Linked DNA regions of Homo sapiens. The protein of the gene in region 2 interacts with the protein of the main gene of each other region in a pairwise test. Each region holds a gene or a part of one and is shown on either strand. Other genes may lie near its edges.

What was found.
Region 1: the proteins of EHMT2 (region 2) and MTA1 interact in binary tests that used the Homo sapiens proteins (3 or more experiments, as listed by UniProt).
Region 3: the proteins of EHMT2 (region 2) and EPDR1 interact in binary tests that used the Homo sapiens proteins (3 or more experiments, as listed by UniProt).
Region 4: the proteins of EHMT2 (region 2) and MTA3 interact in binary tests that used the Homo sapiens proteins (3 or more experiments, as listed by UniProt).

What each region holds. Positions count from the first base shown.
Region 1 is NC_000014.9:105,443,440-105,448,017, forward strand, and holds part of MTA1 (metastasis-associated protein MTA1), read left to right. Parts: intron 1-1,978; coding exon 1,979-2,072; intron 2,073-4,578. UniProt on the Homo sapiens protein: Transcriptional coregulator which can act as both a transcriptional corepressor and coactivator. Acts as a component of the histone deacetylase NuRD complex which participates in the remodeling of chromatin.
Region 2 is NC_000006.12:31,887,079-31,891,656, reverse strand, and holds part of EHMT2 (histone-lysine N-methyltransferase EHMT2), read left to right. Parts: intron 1-2,054; coding exon 2,055-2,189; intron 2,190-2,314; coding exon 2,315-2,429; intron 2,430-2,586; coding exon 2,587-2,688; intron 2,689-2,909; coding exon 2,910-3,058; intron 3,059-3,150; coding exon 3,151-3,294; intron 3,295-3,380; coding exon 3,381-3,616; intron 3,617-3,695; coding exon 3,696-3,878; intron 3,879-3,997; coding exon 3,998-4,080; intron 4,081-4,555; coding exon 4,556-4,578. UniProt on the Homo sapiens protein: Histone methyltransferase that specifically mono- and dimethylates 'Lys-9' of histone H3 (H3K9me1 and H3K9me2, respectively) in euchromatin.
Region 3 is NC_000007.14:37,926,753-37,931,330, forward strand, and holds part of EPDR1 (mammalian ependymin-related protein 1 isoform 1 precursor), read left to right. Parts: intron 1-4,578. UniProt on the Homo sapiens protein: Binds anionic lipids and gangliosides at acidic pH.
Region 4 is NC_000002.12:42,571,245-42,575,822, forward strand, and holds part of MTA3 (metastasis-associated protein MTA3), read left to right. Parts: intron 1-4,578. UniProt on the Homo sapiens protein: Acts as a component of the histone deacetylase NuRD complex which participates in the remodeling of chromatin.

The DNA of each region.
Region 1 (4,578 bases), on a different chromosome or scaffold from region 2:
CAACTCATTGCAGCCTTGACCTCCCAGGCCCAAGTGATCCTCTCACCTCAGCCTCCCAAGTAGCTGGGACTACAGGCGCACACCACTGCATCTGGTTAATTTTTAAAACACATTTTATAGAGATGAGGTTTCACCATGTTGCCCAGGCTGGTCTTGAACTCCTGGGAGTGAGCCACTGCCCCCAACCCATTTATAACATTAAACCAAATTATCTTTAAGAAAAGTGGCCAGGTGCCTTGGCTTACTCCTGTAATCCTAGCACTCTGGGAGGCCAAGGCGGGCAGATTGCTGGAGTCCAGGAGTTCAAGATTAGCCTGAGCAATGTGGTGAAACCCCGTCTCTACAAAAAATTTAAAAATTAGCCAGGTTGGCTGGGTGCGGTGGCTCATGCCTGTAATCCCAGCACTTTGGGAGGCTGAGGCGGGTGGGTCACGAGGTCAGGAGATAGAGACCATCCTGGCCAACATGGTAAAACCCCGTCTCTACTAAAAATACAAAAATGAGCCGGTGTGGTGGTGGGTGCCTATAGTTCCAGCTACTCAGGAGGCTGAGGCAGGAGAATCGCTTGAACCCGGGAGGTGGAGGTTGCAGTGAGCTGAGATCGCACCACTGCCCTCCAGCCTGGGCGACAGAGTGAGACTCCATCTAAAAAGGCCGGGTGCGGTGGCTCACGCCTGTAACCCCAGCACTTTGAGAGACCAAGACGGGCGGATCACGAGGTCAGGAGATCGAGGCCATCCTGGCTAACACGGTGAAACCCAGTCTCTACTAAAAAATACAAAAAAATTAGCCGGGCGTGGTGGTGGGCGCCTGTAGTCCCAGCTACTCGGGAGGCTGAGGCAGGAGAATGGCGTGAACCCAGGAGGCGGAGCTTGCAGTGAGCCGAGATTGCACCACTGCACTCCAGCCTGGGCGACAGAGCAAGACTCTGTCTCAAAAAAAAAGCCAGGCATGGTGTAATTGGACTGTGGTCCTGGGAGATGGAGGCTGCAGTGACCTGACATCACACTGCTGCATTCTAGTCTGGGCAACAGAGTGAGACCCTATCTCAAAAAATTAAAAAGTTAGGTGAGGCTGGGTGCTGTTTACACCTGTAATCCCAGCACTTTGTGGGGCTGAGGCAGGCAGATTGCTTGAGGTCAGGGGTTCCAGACCAGCCTGGCCAACATGGCAAAACCCTGTCTCTACTGAAAATACAAAAATTAGCTGGTCGTGGTGGCTCACGCTTGTAATCTCAGCTACCTGGGAGGCTGAGGCAGGAGAATCACTTGAACCCAGGAGGCAGAGGTTGCAGTGAGCCAAGATCACAACACTGCACTCCAGCCTGGGCGACAGAGTGAGACCCCATCTTAAAAAAAAAAAAAAAAAGAGTTATAAATAGTATTCCATTAGGCACTTGCACTGTGATTAGAATTACAGCACAATTCTTGCAGTAGCAAAGATGTTATAAAAACTCGTTCAGAAAACATACGTGCTTCTCTGGTGGCGTTTTACAGCCGTCTTGACTTGGAGACGTTTGTCAGCCAGGCCAGGTGGGAGGGCTGGTCCCATGCGGGGGGTCCAGGCTGCGTCCGCCGCTAGGGCCGTGGCTGCTGTGCAGGTCACCCCAGAGGGGCTGGGATAGCTGGGCGTGGCCTCCCAGGAGCTGACTGAGGTCCTACCCAGTGTGGCGGGGGCCTTTTCCTCCTTGGGACCCTGCTGTTCTCAGGTGGTACACTGGGGTCTGGAAGGGAGGGAGAATGGAGACACAGGTTGAGGTTGGGTGCACACGCCCGCCTTCTCCCCTGGGATAGACGCCACGGGCGTCCAGAGCTGCAGGATTTGCTCCATTTGTGAAGTGCCCTCCTGGAGTCCCGAGGGGTGGTGTGGTTACACCTGCAGTCCCTGGACGGCAGGGTCCGGCCTTGGAGCCCCTCCTGGGAGCTGTGCAGCCCGGGTTTGGTCGCGTTTCTCAGACGCCCCTGCCTTGCTGTTACAGACGGCCAATGGGAACGTGGAGGCCAAAGTGGTGTGCTTCTACCGGAGGCGGGACATCTCCAGCACCCTCATCGCCCTGGCCGACAAGCACGCAAGTGAGTCCGGCCTTCCCTGGGGTGCCCGCCTGGCGGGAGGGTCGGCTGGGGAGGGCTGGCGGGGTCCTTCTTCCCTAGGGCCCATCGGCATCCTGGCCTCGTGGGGCCACCCTCTGCCCAACTCACTCTGGCGTCTCTTTTTCTCCCTTCCACAGTGGGCGGGGGTGTCCTGGCTCCGTTTCCTCGGGGGCTGGGTGAATGAAGTCCTCGCACGCCCCCCGGAGTGGTCTGTCTCTCACTGGCATCCTCTGCAAGCTTGTCATGGTGTGGCTGGGTGTGGGCATCATTGATCGAGGCTTCTTTTTCCCTTCTATGATGACTTCTGGAGACTTTCCAGGCTGGTGGGACCCTGCTGCCTGCACTTGCCAATGTCTCTCTCTTTTTAATTTTGCGGAGAGGCTTCTGTTGGGATTCTGAGTAGTGTTTTCAGGAAAGCAGTCCTCTCCTTATTCTTTACGATTCAAACCCAAGTTTAGTAACCTGGCTGGGAGGGGCTGCTGTGGCCAGCACAGCGTGTGGGAGGAAGCCACTGGCTGCATGGGAATGCCCTCAGCCTTGGGGACCCAGCTTCTCCCCCGGGAACAGGTGCTCGCAGGTGGTGGAGTCTCCTGTGCCGGGGGATGTTGACTTCAGAGCCAGGAGCCAGAGGCACCCCCACGCCCTCCACATGCTACTGACACAGGGCCTGCCGAGCTGGGCCCCACCTGCACCAGACACAGTGTGGTACCCCACTGAGGCCCTTCATGTGTCGGTGGGGGCAGGCATGAGGGGCATTTTTGGCTTCCACTCTGACACATCACCTGGGGTGGGATCTGAGCCCAGGCTGAGGCTGTGGTCTGTAGGGTGACATTTCCCAGTAGGTGAGGCATGTGACTGCCCGGGTACCCGTGTCGCTGGGGTGGGCCAAGGTCCCACCTGTAACCTCCCACGACCCCTAATGGGGTGAGGTCCAGGGACTGTGGGTTTGCGGTGGGTCGGGTGGGAGGACCCTCGCATCTTCTGCCCCGTCCCAGCGCTGTGGGTGAGGGGCAGGAAGTCAGCCCAGGCAACCTCCCCCTGCTCTGGGAGGGGCTTAGGGACAGGACAGACCATCCTGCCACCGATGCCTTGTTCCTGAGCCTTTGCTGGGAGTCGGCCAGGGCAGGCGCTTGTGGAAGGAAGGTGTCCCTTAACCCCACTGCCTTGCCCACCGGACAGCTGGGACCTTTCCTCAGCAACCAGTGGATGCGGACGTGAGCTGCCCTGGGTCAGTGCAGCTGGGCCGGGCCCCCGAGCCTGGGTCCACTCTGGACACTGGGCTGTGGGGCCTGTGGCTGGCCCAAAGGGAGCTGCCAGTTGACCATGGGCTTTCTCTGGCTTTGTGAGGAACTGGACCTCCTAGCTCTCTGCTCAGAGGAGGGGAGCGTTCAAGGTGGGGCATGGTGATCCTTGACCTCTGACCCCAAAGCCTGTGTACTCCACTGCTGCACTCGGCGGGCTCCAGGCACCAAGGAGGAGAGCTGGGGATGTTGAAGGTCCACAGGCTACACATTCTGGAGGGGTGTTTGGTGTGGCCCTTGGCCCTGCAGGTGCTGGGTGCCAGTCAGCAGCACGGCTGGCGGTTCTTAGTGTTGGAGGCTGGCCTATGTCGACTCTGCAGGGCTGGCCCGCTGGAGAAGCAGTGGTGGGGAGCGGCCTGGCTCGCTGGAGAAGCAGTGGTGGGGAGCGGGCTGGCCCGCTGGAGAAGCAGTGCCCAGGCTGAGCGGCCGCAGTGTGGCCCTGCCAGTCTGTGTGGCCTGGGGAGTCAGGCGCCACCGTTGAGTTGGGCATGTTTATGGCTGGCCCAGGGTGGATCCTGTCTCTGTCCTCTGGCACCTGGGGGCACAGTGTCCCTGCTCCAGAGAGCCTGTATCAGTGGTTTAGTGGTTTTTGAGGGTACTGTGGCCCCCTTGGCTGAGGTTCTGCTCTCAGACGCCCCAGAGGATGGCCTTTTGCTGGAAGAGCCCCAGAAGGGGACTCCAGACATAACGTGATTAGAGGTATCAGAGGGCAGGTTTTCCAGAAGGGCCTCGTTGGGGCTGATAGGACTGGGTGGAGAGCAGTGTCCCAGCTCGAGCACTGGCCCCCCCAGGTACACAGCACAGCCCCTTTGGACGGTGCTCCCTGGAAAGCTGCGTGGCGGCCCCTCTGCAGGGCGTTCCTATGAACTGAGAGCCCAGCTGCAGGGAGCAGGCGTCATGGGTGATGGGTCTGCCGCTGGTCCAGGGACTCAGAGCGCGGCCCCACTCTTGCCTGGCGGCTGGGCCTTGCGGTGATTCTGCAGGGCCCACACCCCCCGGGGTTGTGTCAATCTCCGTTTCTCCTGCTTCTCTGTGAGCTCATGGCAGCCAGGGTGAGGCCCCCAGCTGATCCCAGGGACAGGTGTGAGGACACTCTGGGAGGCCTCTGGCTCTCCCACGTCACTGCCTCCACCCAGCCCCTGCTGGGGCGTCCAGCCCACAGTGCAGGCCTCAGGGTGGAGGGTAGA
Region 2 (4,578 bases):
ATTTTGCCTTTTATTTAACATTTTATCATGAAAACTTGCAAGCATAATCAAAAGAGTAGAATAGGGAGCCCCCATGTACCCAATACACAGCTCCAGCCATTATCAGTACACAGTCCATCTTGACCCATCTGTACATCTCCCAGCACACACACCTACTAGGTTATTTTAAAGCAAATCCCAGACCTCATATCATTTTACCTAAACATATATCCATATAGATTTGTAAATATAAGGCCTCTTTTTGTCGTTCAACATCATTACACTACTGTTTTCACACCTAAAAAAACTTACCGATTTCTTAATACCATCAAATATCCTGTCAGTCTTCACATTTCCTCAGCTCTCACAAATGGTTTTTGTCAAGATCCAAATGAGGCCCACACCTTGATTTGATTAACATTTGTCTTAGGTCAGCCAGGCACAGTGGCTCACGCCTGTAATCCCAATACTTTGGGAGGCCAAGGCGGGCAGATCACGTGAGGTTGGGAGTTCGAGACCAGCCTGATCAACATGGAGAAACCCCGTCTCTACTGAAAAAAATACAAAATTAGCTGGACGTAGTGGTACGTGCCTGTAATTCCAGCTACTCGGGAGGCTGAGGCAGGAGAATCGCTTGAACCTGGGAGGTGGAGGTTGCAGTGAGCCAAGATCGTACCATTGCACTCCAGCCTCGGCAACAAGAGCGAAACTCCGTCTCAAAAAAAAAAAAATTTTTTTTTGTCTTAGGTCTCTCTCAGTATTTAGGTTTCCCCATCTTCTTTGTGTTTGTTTGTTTGTTTGTTTTTGTTTTTTGAGATGGAGTCTCACACTGTCACCCAGGCTGGAGTGCAGTGGCGTGATCTTGGCTCACTGCAAGCTCCACCTCCTGAGTTCAAGCAATTCTCCTGCCTCAGTCTCCCAAGTAGCTGGGATTACAGGCACCCACCACCATGCCCAGCTAATTTTTTGTATTTTTAGTAGAGGCAGGGTTTCACTATGTTGGCCAGGCTGGTCTCAAACTCCTGATCTCGTGATCTGCCCACCTCGGCCTCCCAAAGCGCTGGGATTACAGGCGTGAGCCACCACACCTGGCCTGATTTCCTCATCTTCTAAAAAAAAATTTTTTGGCCCAGGCGTGGTGGCTCACGCCTGTAATCCCAGCACTTTGGGAGGCAGGTGGATCACCTGAGGTCAGGAGTTTGAGACCAGCCTAGCCAACATGGTGAAAACACATCTCTAATAAAAATACGAAAATTAGCTGGGTGTGGTGGCGGGTGCCTATAATCCCAGCTACTCAGGAGGCTGAGGCAAGAGAATTGCTTGAATCCAGGAGGTGGAGGTTGCAGTGAGCTGAGATCACACCATTGCAATGCAGCCTGGGCAACAAGAGCAAAACTCAATAAATAAATAAGAAAGATTTTTTTTTTTTGCCATTTATTTGTCAAAGAAACCAGCTCAGTTGTCCTACAGAATTTTTCACATTTAGGAGTTGGCTGATTGGGTGGAGATTGACACATCCTCTCTGCCCATATTTCTTGTAAACTGATAGATCTAGAGGCGGAATCAGCTTCAGGTGCCAAGAAGACTTGACAGTGGGTGCAAGTGCTTCTGGCCACATCACATCAGGATGCATGGAACATCTAATCTGGTCATTTTTCTTGTTAGTGATAAGATTGACCAGTGGGTTCAGGTGATGTCAGCCTGAACCTTTCATATAAAGTTTCTCATGAGCTTTGTGTCTAGTGTTTTTAGCAACCATTGGTGGTCTTGCCTGTTTATGAACATCATAAAAGGGGTATCAAAGTATGTTTATCTTCTGGTACTTGCTTTTTGTTTTTTAACTTAATATCACATTACCAAGATCTGTGCACATTGCTGTCTGTAACTTTTTCACTGCTGTGTAATATTCCATGCACCCTCTCTTTATGTGGCCCTTTGTCTCCTCTGCTACCCACACTTATCCCCAGCAGCCATCCGTGGGTAGTGGCGGGGGGCAATGGTGGTGGTGGTTTTCTTTACTCACCTCATTGTCTGAGTCCTGGGGGTTGGATATGTCTGTTCTGCCTCTCTCCCAGTCTGAAGTTGAAGCTCTAACTGAACAACTAAGTGAAGAGGAGGAGGAGGAAGAGGAGGAAGAAGAAGAAGAGGAAGAGGAGGAGGAAGAGGAAGAAGAAGAGGAAGATGAGGAGTCAGGGAATCAGTCAGATAGGGTAAGAGACGGAGGCTGATATCTCCAGAGGAGTGGGAGACTATGGGGCTGGAGGTCTGGTCCTGAAGGTGTTGGGGGGGCCCCTGGGGGTGAGGGTTCCTAACTCCTCCTCCTCCCCCTTCCCAGAGTGGTTCCAGTGGCCGGCGCAAGGCCAAGAAGAAATGGCGAAAAGACAGCCCATGGGTGAAGCCGTCTCGGAAACGGCGCAAGCGGGAGCCTCCGCGGGCCAAGGAGCCACGAGGTGAGGAGGCTCTGCTGCTTTTGGGTGCCCTCCAGCCCCCGCCCGGCCCCCCAGAGTGTGTGCACGCACACACACGCTCTCGCATGTCCACCTGCATGTACCCACGCGTCCAGGCACCTGTGAGCTCGCACTCTCACTCTCTCTGTCTCTGTGTCAGGAGTGAATGGTGTGGGCTCCTCAGGCCCCAGTGAGTACATGGAGGTCCCTCTGGGGTCCCTGGAGCTGCCCAGCGAGGGGACCCTCTCCCCCAACCACGCTGGTAATTGCCAATTGCCGGGACAGGGAGCCACTAGGGGGCGACCTCAGGGCAGGAGGGAAAGGGAAGGAGGGGAACCACGCCAGAGCCGGGGTGTCCATGGCCAGGCTTTAGGGGTTCTGGGGCATGGCGGGGTGGGGTAGGGAGGGAGTGAGAGGACCCGCCAGGGGTCCCAGTAGGTGAGGTGCAGAGCCTCCCTCAGCTCCTCTTTTCCTCCATCCAAGGGGTGTCCAATGACACATCTTCGCTGGAGACAGAGCGAGGGTTTGAGGAGTTGCCCCTGTGCAGCTGCCGCATGGAGGCACCCAAGATTGACCGCATCAGCGAGAGGGCGGGGCACAAGTGCATGGCCACTGAGAGTGTGGACGGAGAGGTGGGGCCGTGGGCTGGTGGGAGAGGTGCCAGGGCGTCCAGTCCCCGGCCCCAGCCTCACGCTCTCTTCTCACCCATCCTCACTGCGCACAGCTGTCAGGCTGCAATGCCGCCATCCTCAAGCGGGAGACCATGAGGCCATCCAGCCGTGTGGCCCTGATGGTGCTCTGTGAGACCCACCGCGCCCGCATGGTCAAACACCACTGCTGCCCGGGCTGCGGCTACTTCTGCACGGCGGTGAGTGACCAGTGGGGCAGACAGGTAGCATGCCCTGTGGCAGAGGGGGCCCCAGTAACCTGACCATGTCGTTTCCCTGCTCCCAGGGCACCTTCCTGGAGTGCCACCCTGACTTCCGTGTGGCCCACCGCTTCCACAAGGCCTGTGTGTCTCAGCTGAATGGGATGGTCTTCTGTCCCCACTGTGGGGAGGATGCTTCTGAAGCTCAAGAGGTGACCATCCCCCGGGGTGACGGGGTGACCCCACCGGCCGGCACTGCAGCTCCTGCACCCCCACCCCTGTCCCAGGATGTCCCCGGGAGAGCAGACACTTCTCAGCCCAGGTACTGGCCTCCCCCTTCTGTACTGTCTGTTCCCTCCCCCACCCCTATTGCTCCTGGACATGAGCTCCTTCTTCCACAGTGCCCGGATGCGAGGGCATGGGGAACCCCGGCGCCCGCCCTGCGATCCCCTGGCTGACACCATTGACAGCTCAGGGCCCTCCCTGACCCTGCCCAATGGGGGCTGCCTTTCAGCCGTGGGGCTGCCACTGGGGCCAGGCCGGGAGGCCCTGGAAAAGGCCCTGGTCATCCAGGAGTCAGAGAGGTGAGTGGGGAGTTGCTCAGGCACAGCAACTGGGGCTGAGGCCAGAGGAGTGGTGTCGAGGCTGATGCTGGAATCTGAGGAGCTCCCCTTCTCTCCCCGCTCCCGTGCTCCCTTGGCAGGCGGAAGAAGCTCCGTTTCCACCCTCGGCAGTTGTACCTGTCCGTGAAGCAGGGCGAGCTGCAGAAGGTGATCCTGATGCTGTGTGAGTGCCACCCATTCCTTCAGCAGACCTTGACCAAGCTTCATGTATATACCAGGCACTGGGTACAGGGCCAGGAGTACAGTCGTGAAGGACACAGTCCTTGCCCTGAAGGACTTAGTGTGGTGGGGAAAAGACACATGTAACCCATAACGATGGGGATGTGGTGACTCATAGGTGCTGGGTCCTGTTCTGAGTGCTTATACCTGTTAGCCTTGGCTTGCACAGAGAGGTTAGGGACCTTGCACAGTGCACAGTGGTACTGAGAAGCAAGGCAGGGTTTGAATTCAGGCAGAGCTGATGCCTTTGACTCCTTATTCTGATAAATGCTGTGGTGGAGGCAAGCTCGGAGAATGCCAGGAGGGGCCCTGATCCAGCTTGGGGCCCTGAGAAGCCTTCCTGAAAGAAGTGCCACCTGCCCCCTAGCTTGCTTACCACTTGTCCCTCCCTCTCCCGGTGTGGCGGGCTCTCCCCGCAGTGGACAACCTGGACCCCAACTTC
Region 3 (4,578 bases), on a different chromosome or scaffold from region 2:
TGTTGTCTGCCAGCCTTCTTCACTGTGAAATGATACATTTTTTCTTTTTAATTAGTAAGATTTGGTAGGGAAATATTTTAAAACCATGTACATATCCCATTCTTCATTAATCTTCTGAATTATACTTTATTTGTATCAGTGTGGACTCAAGCCTTCTAATTTTGTTCTATTTGCTCTCGTTGTTTACTTTGCTGTTCATAATGTCCTAGATTTGGCCAGTGGAAGCCTCTTCAAATTGGTTTCTATGTTCTTTTGATGTGTTTGGGCACTTCCTTGCTTTCCGGCACAGCAAGATATTTCAAGATCATCTATACTTTTCCTGCCCCAGTCCTAGGATAAACCATTTTTCAAGAAGCCCTGGTTACTTTTCCTGGAGAATAATATGTGGAAGTTAGAACCTGTGCTCTGGTCATGCTCAGTGCTATCAGGTGGCACTGCTACCAGGTCCTCTCAATGGACAAAGCAAGGGGTGTTAAGTTTGAATACACACATCCCTCCCCACACACACTCATACATATATACACATTTACATCTATATTTATTTCTGAACCTCCAGTTCTAATCCATACAGGTGTTTAAACTGATGCCTTCATTCTAATCCAACACTACATGGTTCATTCTAGTTTTTTTTTTCCTTTCATTTTTGCTACTCCCTTCTCAGCCAGTGAGAAAACTGGCTTACTATTCAATTGCAGTAGGTAACCAGTCATGTATCATTACGCTGTCTCCTTCACACATGGGCTCTGCGCTCCAGGCCAGCCCATGTAGAAGCCTATCTTCCTTGGTCCTACCTAGTGGCTTTAGTCTAAATTGTTCAAGAGAAAGGAGTAGATGAAATTATGTTCTTAACATATGTTTGTATTGCTTTTGGATTCTCAGTATGTCATCATTACAAATCCTCAGAGGGTGTTTCTGTGTGACTGGGGGAGGCAGACTAATATAAAGTGCTCAATAAATCTATTTGATCATGAATCTTGTCTTGCATGGATTGGATTTTCATTTTAAGAAATCACGACTTTGTGAATATTAAGAGCATGACTTCTCCTTTGACCTTTACTCCATCATTTTGGTCTCAGATGGCTGGAGATAGCATATTCTTTTGTGAGCTGAGGAAGTCTTGACTGCTTGTGGCCTCCTGATCCTCAAAGAATAAACCATACTGATTTGCAATACTTGAGTTTCGCAATATTTGAGTTTTTCTTCAAGAAACAGATTTTCTTGGAAGCACACAAAGTTTGATTTAAGGGACTTAATTCAGTGTGTCTATAGACCCTGGATTTCAGACAATTAATGCTGAGATGGGGAGGGAGAAGCAGGCACTGGGGAAAAAAGATCCAAAGAAGATAAGCCCAGGAGAGTAAGGAGGCTGATGGAATGTAAGACAAATTTACGAATGGAAGCCAGAGGTGGTCACTATACTGCTTTGAAAACATCTTTACTTTCTCCAATAACCTTGAGCTGTTTCTTCCTGATTCTGACCTTGAGGATGGTGGTCAGGGGCAAAGTGCCCAAAGATCTGAAAATATTCCACCAATTAGTGGTTTGTTTTTCCTGGAATAAATATGATAGTCTTAGATTTCACCAATTCCAGTAAAAAATTTCTATTTTCCCCCTTAACATTTTCTTTTATTTTACCCATCTTTAAATAAAAAAAAAAAACTTCTCTTGATCTTACCAGCTGAAATCTCATTCTCCTCTTCTATTTAAAGCAAATCTCATGCTAACTACAATTTTTGTACTCCCATGCTCTCTTGAACACCCTCCAATCACTTTTGTCACCATTCTATTGAAAATACTCTGGTCAAAAGCAAGAAGCTCTACATTACTAATCAACCAATCTTTGATCAGTCCTCATCTTATTGTAGATTAATTCCCCAATCTTGATGCACTGTCTTCACTTGGCTTTCAACATGCTAGTCTTCTGGTTTTCCTTCTCCCACCTTATTTCCTCTCCTCAAGCCTTTTTGCTCTTTCTGCTCTTCTCTGGACTGCTAATAGTGGACTCTCCCAGGGCTCAGGCTCTCATCTCTTTATGTTCCTACCTATACCCTAATTTTGATATATACTGAATCTGACCATACCTCTACTGTTATTCTGGCCCAAACTTTTATTATGTCTCGGCTGGATGTTTATGATAGCCTCCTAACAGTTGTCCCCACTTCGGACCTTGCTCCCTTTAGTCTGTTCTCCACATAGAAACCCCAGGGGTTCTCTTGAAAATACGTCATGCCACTTCTTGGCTCAGGATCTGCTCCCCAGCCTTTTCCCTACCTTATCTCTGTCACCAGCTCACTCATTGTGGACCTGGCCTCAGCACGCTGACCCCATTGGCACTTGAATCTGTCATTCCCTCTGCCTAGAAAGACTTTTTCCTAAGAAGCTGCATGACTTACTCCCAAATTGAACTGTTTCTCTGCTCAACATTCTCAGTGCCCCCTCACTGCTTTATATTAATATATCCAAGGCACTTATGACTATCTGGCAGAGTGTTTAACGTTAAAGTTTGTTCCTTCATCTCCCCCACCTTCCCTCATGCACAATAAGGCTCCGTAAGGCCAGGGGTTTTGTATGGTTGTTGCTGTGTCTCTAACTCCTCAGAACACTTTACATTCTTTTCAACATACTATGTGGGACCTAAACGAATACTTGTCCCATATGAAAAGAGCTGTGTTCTGATGTCGGAGAAGGCGATTCCCAAGCTCCATTTTCTAACTGCTAAGAGCAGGGCCTGACTAATTTTTATTTTTTTTTGAATCAGTGAATGAGGGAAATGAATAACTGATAATATACATTCATTGTAGAAGGATACCTAAATAATAGATATGTATTTTCTTTCCTTTTTTCCTTATAATTAAATTTCTTAGACAATAAAATGATAGATTTATGTAATGGTTTCATGGTTTTTCATTTATATGTTACGTTATACCTCTTTTCTGTTAAGAATGATTTTTGACATCGAATTACACTGCAGTGTTTTGAAAAGTTTTCCAGTAGGGTTGAAGTGGAGGGCACACCACCACCTCCAGAGAGTGGATGCCCCAAACTCCTTTCGCCCATGAGCCACTCCCCCACTGCCCTCTCATCAAACACTGTCTTCAGTGTCTCTCTTGTGCCTCAATTTCAATTTTGGGGAATTTCACCCAATGTGGGCATTTGAGATTTATTTCTAAAGCACCCACAGTTTCTCAGAAGCAGTGCCTTTTTGAGTCGGGAGGCCATCTGAAGAGGAATCAGATCCTTAGCAGGGTGCCTAAGTTACCCTCAGTCCCCCCAAAGAAAGGAGAAACTCTTGGGATGATGGCTCCCCTAAAGAAGGCAACTTCTCCTGGAGGAAAAGGATATACATGCCTTGGATGACTCCTGCCCGCTCACAGAAGGCTGCTTTTGTTGTGGCTTAAAGTTAGATCTTCTGGTAGAGTTCTAGAATGTGGGCCCTGCCGATGAGTGACAGCCAAAAGCTCACCTTGGAAGAGGCACCAGAGTCACAGCCCCAGCTCTCTCAGGGAAGACGCTGCTCCAGAGCATCTCAGAAGCCACCAGGGAAGACAGTGGCAGATGGGAAGCCGGTGGTGCAGGGCCAAGGGCACAGCTCTGCCTGACGCAGCATTGTCAGCAATAGGTAACATATAACTTATGAGGAGTATCTGAGTACCAGCAGGCACTCTTGGGAGTGAAGGATGGGGGAAGAGAATCTGCCCCAGACTTCATATCCATTGGAAATGCCACATCAGGTGCTGTATCTTGGCATGGATTGTGTTTCCTGTAGGTGTGGGAGTTCTTCTTCTCACAGTCAAGCCCTCCACCTGTCCCTTGTCACACACCCTGTCCTTTTGAATAGAAATTCTCATCCTAGCCCAGCTTCAGGCACGGCCTGGCTTACCCTTGGACCCCAGAGATCTCACCCTTCTGAGGTCTCAACTCTCCTTAAGGAGTTAGGAAATGAAGCTTGGGAATCCACTTCTCGGACATCAGAACACAGTTCCTTTTGCACAGGACAAGTATTTATTTAGGTTCCACTTAGTATATTGAAAAGAATTTGAAGTGTTTTGGTGGTTTGTAGTCCTCTTTCATCATGCTGAATCAAGCCTCAAAAAGGTCAATTTCTGCAGTTGTTAAAACACAGAGGAATTTTTATAGTGTGTGTGTTTGCATAAGTTTATAAGGAGCTTTGTCACAAGGTCTTCTGTTTTAGAGAAACAAGCCATTTTACTCCTTTCATAGTTCACTGCAATTTATTTTATACTAATTTTCGTATTTACCTTTATTTCAATTCATGTTTTAGTCAGCTAGAGAAATTATTCAATTTTTTTTTTCAGAGAAGACACTAAGGTTGCATACTTTCAGAGATTTTCAATGTCTAAGCACATCTACTTATTGCCATTTAAATAATGATTTTTTTTGGTGTATACAATTTGGGTAAAAATAGTCTTTTTGCTTAAATATGTTTATGGCATTTACAGCTCTCAAAGAGAAGTCTGAGGCCAGGTGCGGTGGCTCACGCTTGTAATCCCAGCACTTTGGGAGGCCGAGGCGGGTGGATCACCTGAGGTCAGGAGTTTGAGACCAGCCTGGCCACCA
Region 4 (4,578 bases), on a different chromosome or scaffold from region 2:
AAAAATTAGCTAGGCATGGTGGCATGCACCTGTAATCCCAGCTACTCAGGAGGCTGAGGCAGGAGAATCCAGGTGGAGGTTGCAGTGAGCTGAGATCACGCCATTGCACTCTAGCCTGGGTGACAGAGCAAAACACTGTCTCAAAAAAAAAAAAAAAAAAAAAAAAGTTGAGATTTTAGAGAGTTATGCACGATTCTGAATTCCGAATATTCTTTTGCTTTTTTGTTACTGAATATTTAAAAGTGTGCAGATATTTTCAAATTGCTTAGAGCCTCTGAAAGAGCAGTTCACTTATGTAACTCAGACCCTTTTTATGTTTAGAGTCATAATGTGTATTTTTCCCTTTTTAGTGAATTAATATTTTCCTCTTCCAGGTTTAGAAGGAGGAAGCTAGGGAACATAATATTGAAAGGAATTGGCTGGGCGGGTGCGGTGGCTCACGCCTGTAATCCCAGCACTTTGGGAGGTCGAGGCGGGCGGATCACCTGAGGTTGGGAGTTTGAGACCAGCCTGACCAACATGGAGAAACCCCATCTCTACTAAAAATACAAAATTAGCTGAGTGTGTTGGTGCATGCCTGTAATCCCAGCCACTTGGGAGGCTGAGGCAGGAGAATTGCTTGAACCTGGGAGGCATAGGTGGCAGTGAGCCAAGATCACGCCATTGCACTCCAGCCTGGGCAACAAGAGTGAAACTCCGTCTCAAAAAAAAAAAAAAATTGAAGGGAATTTGTAAAATTCTGGACTAGGCTGGCTGGGCACGGTGGCTCACGCCTGTAATCCTAGCACTTTGGGAGGCCAAGGCAGGCGGATCACGGGGTCAGGAGATCGAGACCATCCTGGCTAACATAGTGAAACCCCGTCTCTACTAAAAATACAAAAAAAATTAGCCGGGCATGGTGGTGTGCACCTGTAGTCTCAGCTACTTGGGAGGCTGGGGCAGGAGAATGGGGTGAACCTGGGGGGTGGAGCTTGCAGTGAGCCGAGATCGCGCCACTGCCCTCCAGCCTGGGTGACAGAGTGAGACTGTCTCAAAAAAAAAATTCTGGACTAGGCTAAATTGTCTGTGGTAGCTCACACCTGTAATCCTAACATTTTGGGAAGCTGAGGCCTCAGGATCCTTTGAGTCCAGGAGTTCCAGACTAGCCTGGGTAACATAGGGAAACCCTGCCTCTACCAAAAAAAAATAGCCGGGCATGATGGCACATGCCTGTAGTCCCAGTTACTTGGGAGGCTGAGGAAGATTGCTTGGGCCCAGGAGGTCAAGGCTGCCGTGAGCTGTGATTGCATCACTGCACTCCAGCCTGGGTAACACAGACTGTCTCGAAATTAAAAAAAAAAATTATGGTTTTGGTGTAATAAATATAAAGTAGCTTTGTACCTTTGGCCCAATTAAAATTTTCACATTAAGATTTGTCCGAGATGGTCGTTTATTAGGACAAAAGAAGCCTTATGATTGCAGGAGAAGAAACTTTTGTTTTGTTTTGTTTTTTGTTTTTTGAGATGAAGTTTTCACTCTTGTTGCCCAGACTGGAGTGCAATGGCGCAATCTTGGCTCACTGCAACCTCTTCCTCCCAGGTTCAAGCGATTCTACTGTCTCATCCTCCCAAGTAGCTGGGATTACAGGCATGCGCCACCATGCCTGGCTGTTTTTTGTGTGTTTATTAGAGACAGAGTTTCACCATGTTGGTTGGGCTGGCCTTGAACTCCTGACCTCAGGTGATCCACCCGCCCCAGCCTCCCAAAGTGCTGGGATTACAGGTGTGGGCCACTGCGCCTGGCCAGGATTTATAATGGAGGTACCAGAAAGCAGTCAAGCTGCATGGACCATGGATTTTCTAATGATGTTTTGTTTTCCTCCGATTTTCTAATGATGCTTTGTTTTCCTCCAGACTTCTCTGAGGGTTGTGTGGTTTATGAGACTTCATAGTGTTAAAATCTTTGAGTCTGTCTAGCTAATACCTTTCCCTCAAAATGCCATCTGGTAACTTGTTCAGTTTTGTCTTGAGAAGGCAAGCCTGACCTAGGACATTCTTAGTTTGAAGAGCCTTGAGACCTTGGTTTGTTTTGGGAATATCCCAGGGAATTTGCATTATTTTTATTTTATTCCAGAGACAGGGAGACAGGGTCTCACTCTGTCACCCAGGCTGGAGTTCATTGGTATGATGATAGCTCACTGTAACCTTGAACTCCTGGACTCAAAGCAGTCCTCCTGCCTCAGCTTTCCAAGTAGCTGAGACTACAGGCATGTACCACCATACCTGGCTAATTTTTTGTTGTTGTTGCTATGGATTCTTGCTCTGTTGCCCAGGCTGGAGTACAATGGCATGATCTCCGGTCACTGCAACCTCTGTCTCCTGGGTTCAAGCAATTCTTCTGCCTCAGCCTCCCGAATAGCTGGGATTACAGGCGCCCAACACCATGCCTGGCTAATTTTTGTATTTTTAGTAGAGACAGGGTTTCACCATGTTGGCCAGGCTGGTCTCAAACTCCTGACCTCAGGTGATCCACCCGCCTTGGCCTCCCAAAGTGCTGAGATTACAGGCGTGAGCCACTGCCCCAGCATTTTCTTTCTTTCTTTCTTTCTTTTTTGAGATGGAGTCTCGCTCCGTCGACCAGGCTAGAGTGCAGTGGCGCAATCTCAGCTCACTGCAAGCTCCGCCTCCTGGGTTCACACCATTCTCCTGCCTCAGCCTCCCGAGTAGCTGGGACTACAGGAGCCTGCCACTACGCCTGGCTATTTATTTATTTATTTATTTATTTATTATTTATTAGTAGAGATGGGGTTTCACCGTGTTAGCCAGGATGGTCTCGATCTCCTGACCTTGTGATCCGCCTGCCTCGGCCTCCCAAAGTGCTAGGATTACAGGTGTGAGCCACCGCGCCCGGCTTTTTTTTTTTTTTTCTGAGGCGGAGTTTTGCTGTTCTTGCCCAGGCTGGAGTACAATGGTGCAACCTCCTCTCACCACAACCTCTGCCTCCTGGGTTCAAGCGATTCTCCTGCCTCAGCCTCCTGAGCAGCTGGGATTATAGGCATGCACCACCATGCCCGGCTAATTTTTAGCAGAGATGGGGTTTCTCCATGTTGGTCAGGCTGGTCTCGAACTCCCGACCTCAGGTGATCTACCACCTCGGCCTCCCAAAGTGCTGGGATTACAGGCGTGAGCCACCATGCCCGGCCTCCTTTTCTCAAAATAACTGTGCTACTGCATTTGCCTATGTTAGTTGTCACCCAGGCTGGAGTGCAGTAGCATAGATCCTGGCTCACTGCAACCTCCTCCTCCCAGGTTCAAGTGATTCTCCTCCCTCAGCCTCCCAATTAGCTGGGATTACAGGCACCTGCCACCACACCCAGCTAATTTTTTTGTATTTTTAGTGAAGACAGGGTTTCACCATGTTGGCCAGGCTGGTCATCAAGTGATCCACCCGCCTTGGCCTCCCAAAGTGCTGGGATTACAGGCGTGAACCACTGCACCCCGCCTAATGTTTAAATTTTTTGTAGACGTGGTCTTACTGTGTTGCCCAGGCTGATCTAGAACTCCTGGCCTCAAGCAGTCCCCCATCTTGGTCTCTCAAAGCACTGGGATTACAGGCTGACTGCCTTTGCATTAAAAAAAAATTATTTAGTCTTTGAGACCACCAAGTGAAGAGAATGGCCTCAAGTGTAGATCAGTCCGTGGATGGGAACTGTTGGCATGTGATTCTGATCTTTTATGTTATTGATGTAAGGTATAAGAATTGAGGCAACTCTAAACTATTTACCATATCAGTTTAATTAGAAAGTTAATTACATCGAAATAGAAATCTTGACCTATGAGACCCTATATTCTTTGGCTGTCACTGCCCCTCTCTGACCTCCACTTTCGCTGAAAGCAGGTGGGAGCTCTGCCTTGCTTACTTGGCACAAAGCACAATGGGCTTTTGGCTGTTTCTCCCTGCAACCACCTTAGGAGGACCGTTTATTTGTGTCCGTCCTACCCCTCACCCCTTGCTCTTTTTTCCATATCATTTATCACCTCCAAATATACTTACTGTGTTTATTTTCATTACCTGTCTTCCTAGAGTGTCAGCTGCAGTGATCTTTTCTGTTTTGTCCAGTTATGCATTCTGAGTGCCTTAGAATAGTGGCTGGCACATAGTTAAAGGCATTCACTAAATACTTGTTGAATTAATTAATTTCTGAAATGTCTGATGTTAATGCTTATGTGTACATAGCTTTACTATTTACAAACTGCTTTGATTCATTCATTTTACAAATAAAATTGAGGACCTTCTACCAGCCAGGTACTTTTAGACAGTGAGAATGCAAGGGTGATAAAAAAAAAACAGGTCTAGTGGAGACAGACATCAACCATATAGTCCCACAAGTGAAAGTAAAATTGTAGCTGTGCTAAGTTTAGAAATGTCACAGCATGGTGCTCTGGAAACCTAACCCAGGATTCACGTTTGTTACCCTTTTGAGCCTCACAGAACCTTACACCTTAAGGTAGCTAAATCATGCATTGTTTTCTTGAGGCACATAGTAGCTAAATTATTGGGTTGCACATCTAGGTGAACATAGCTTATTTCACACTCCTT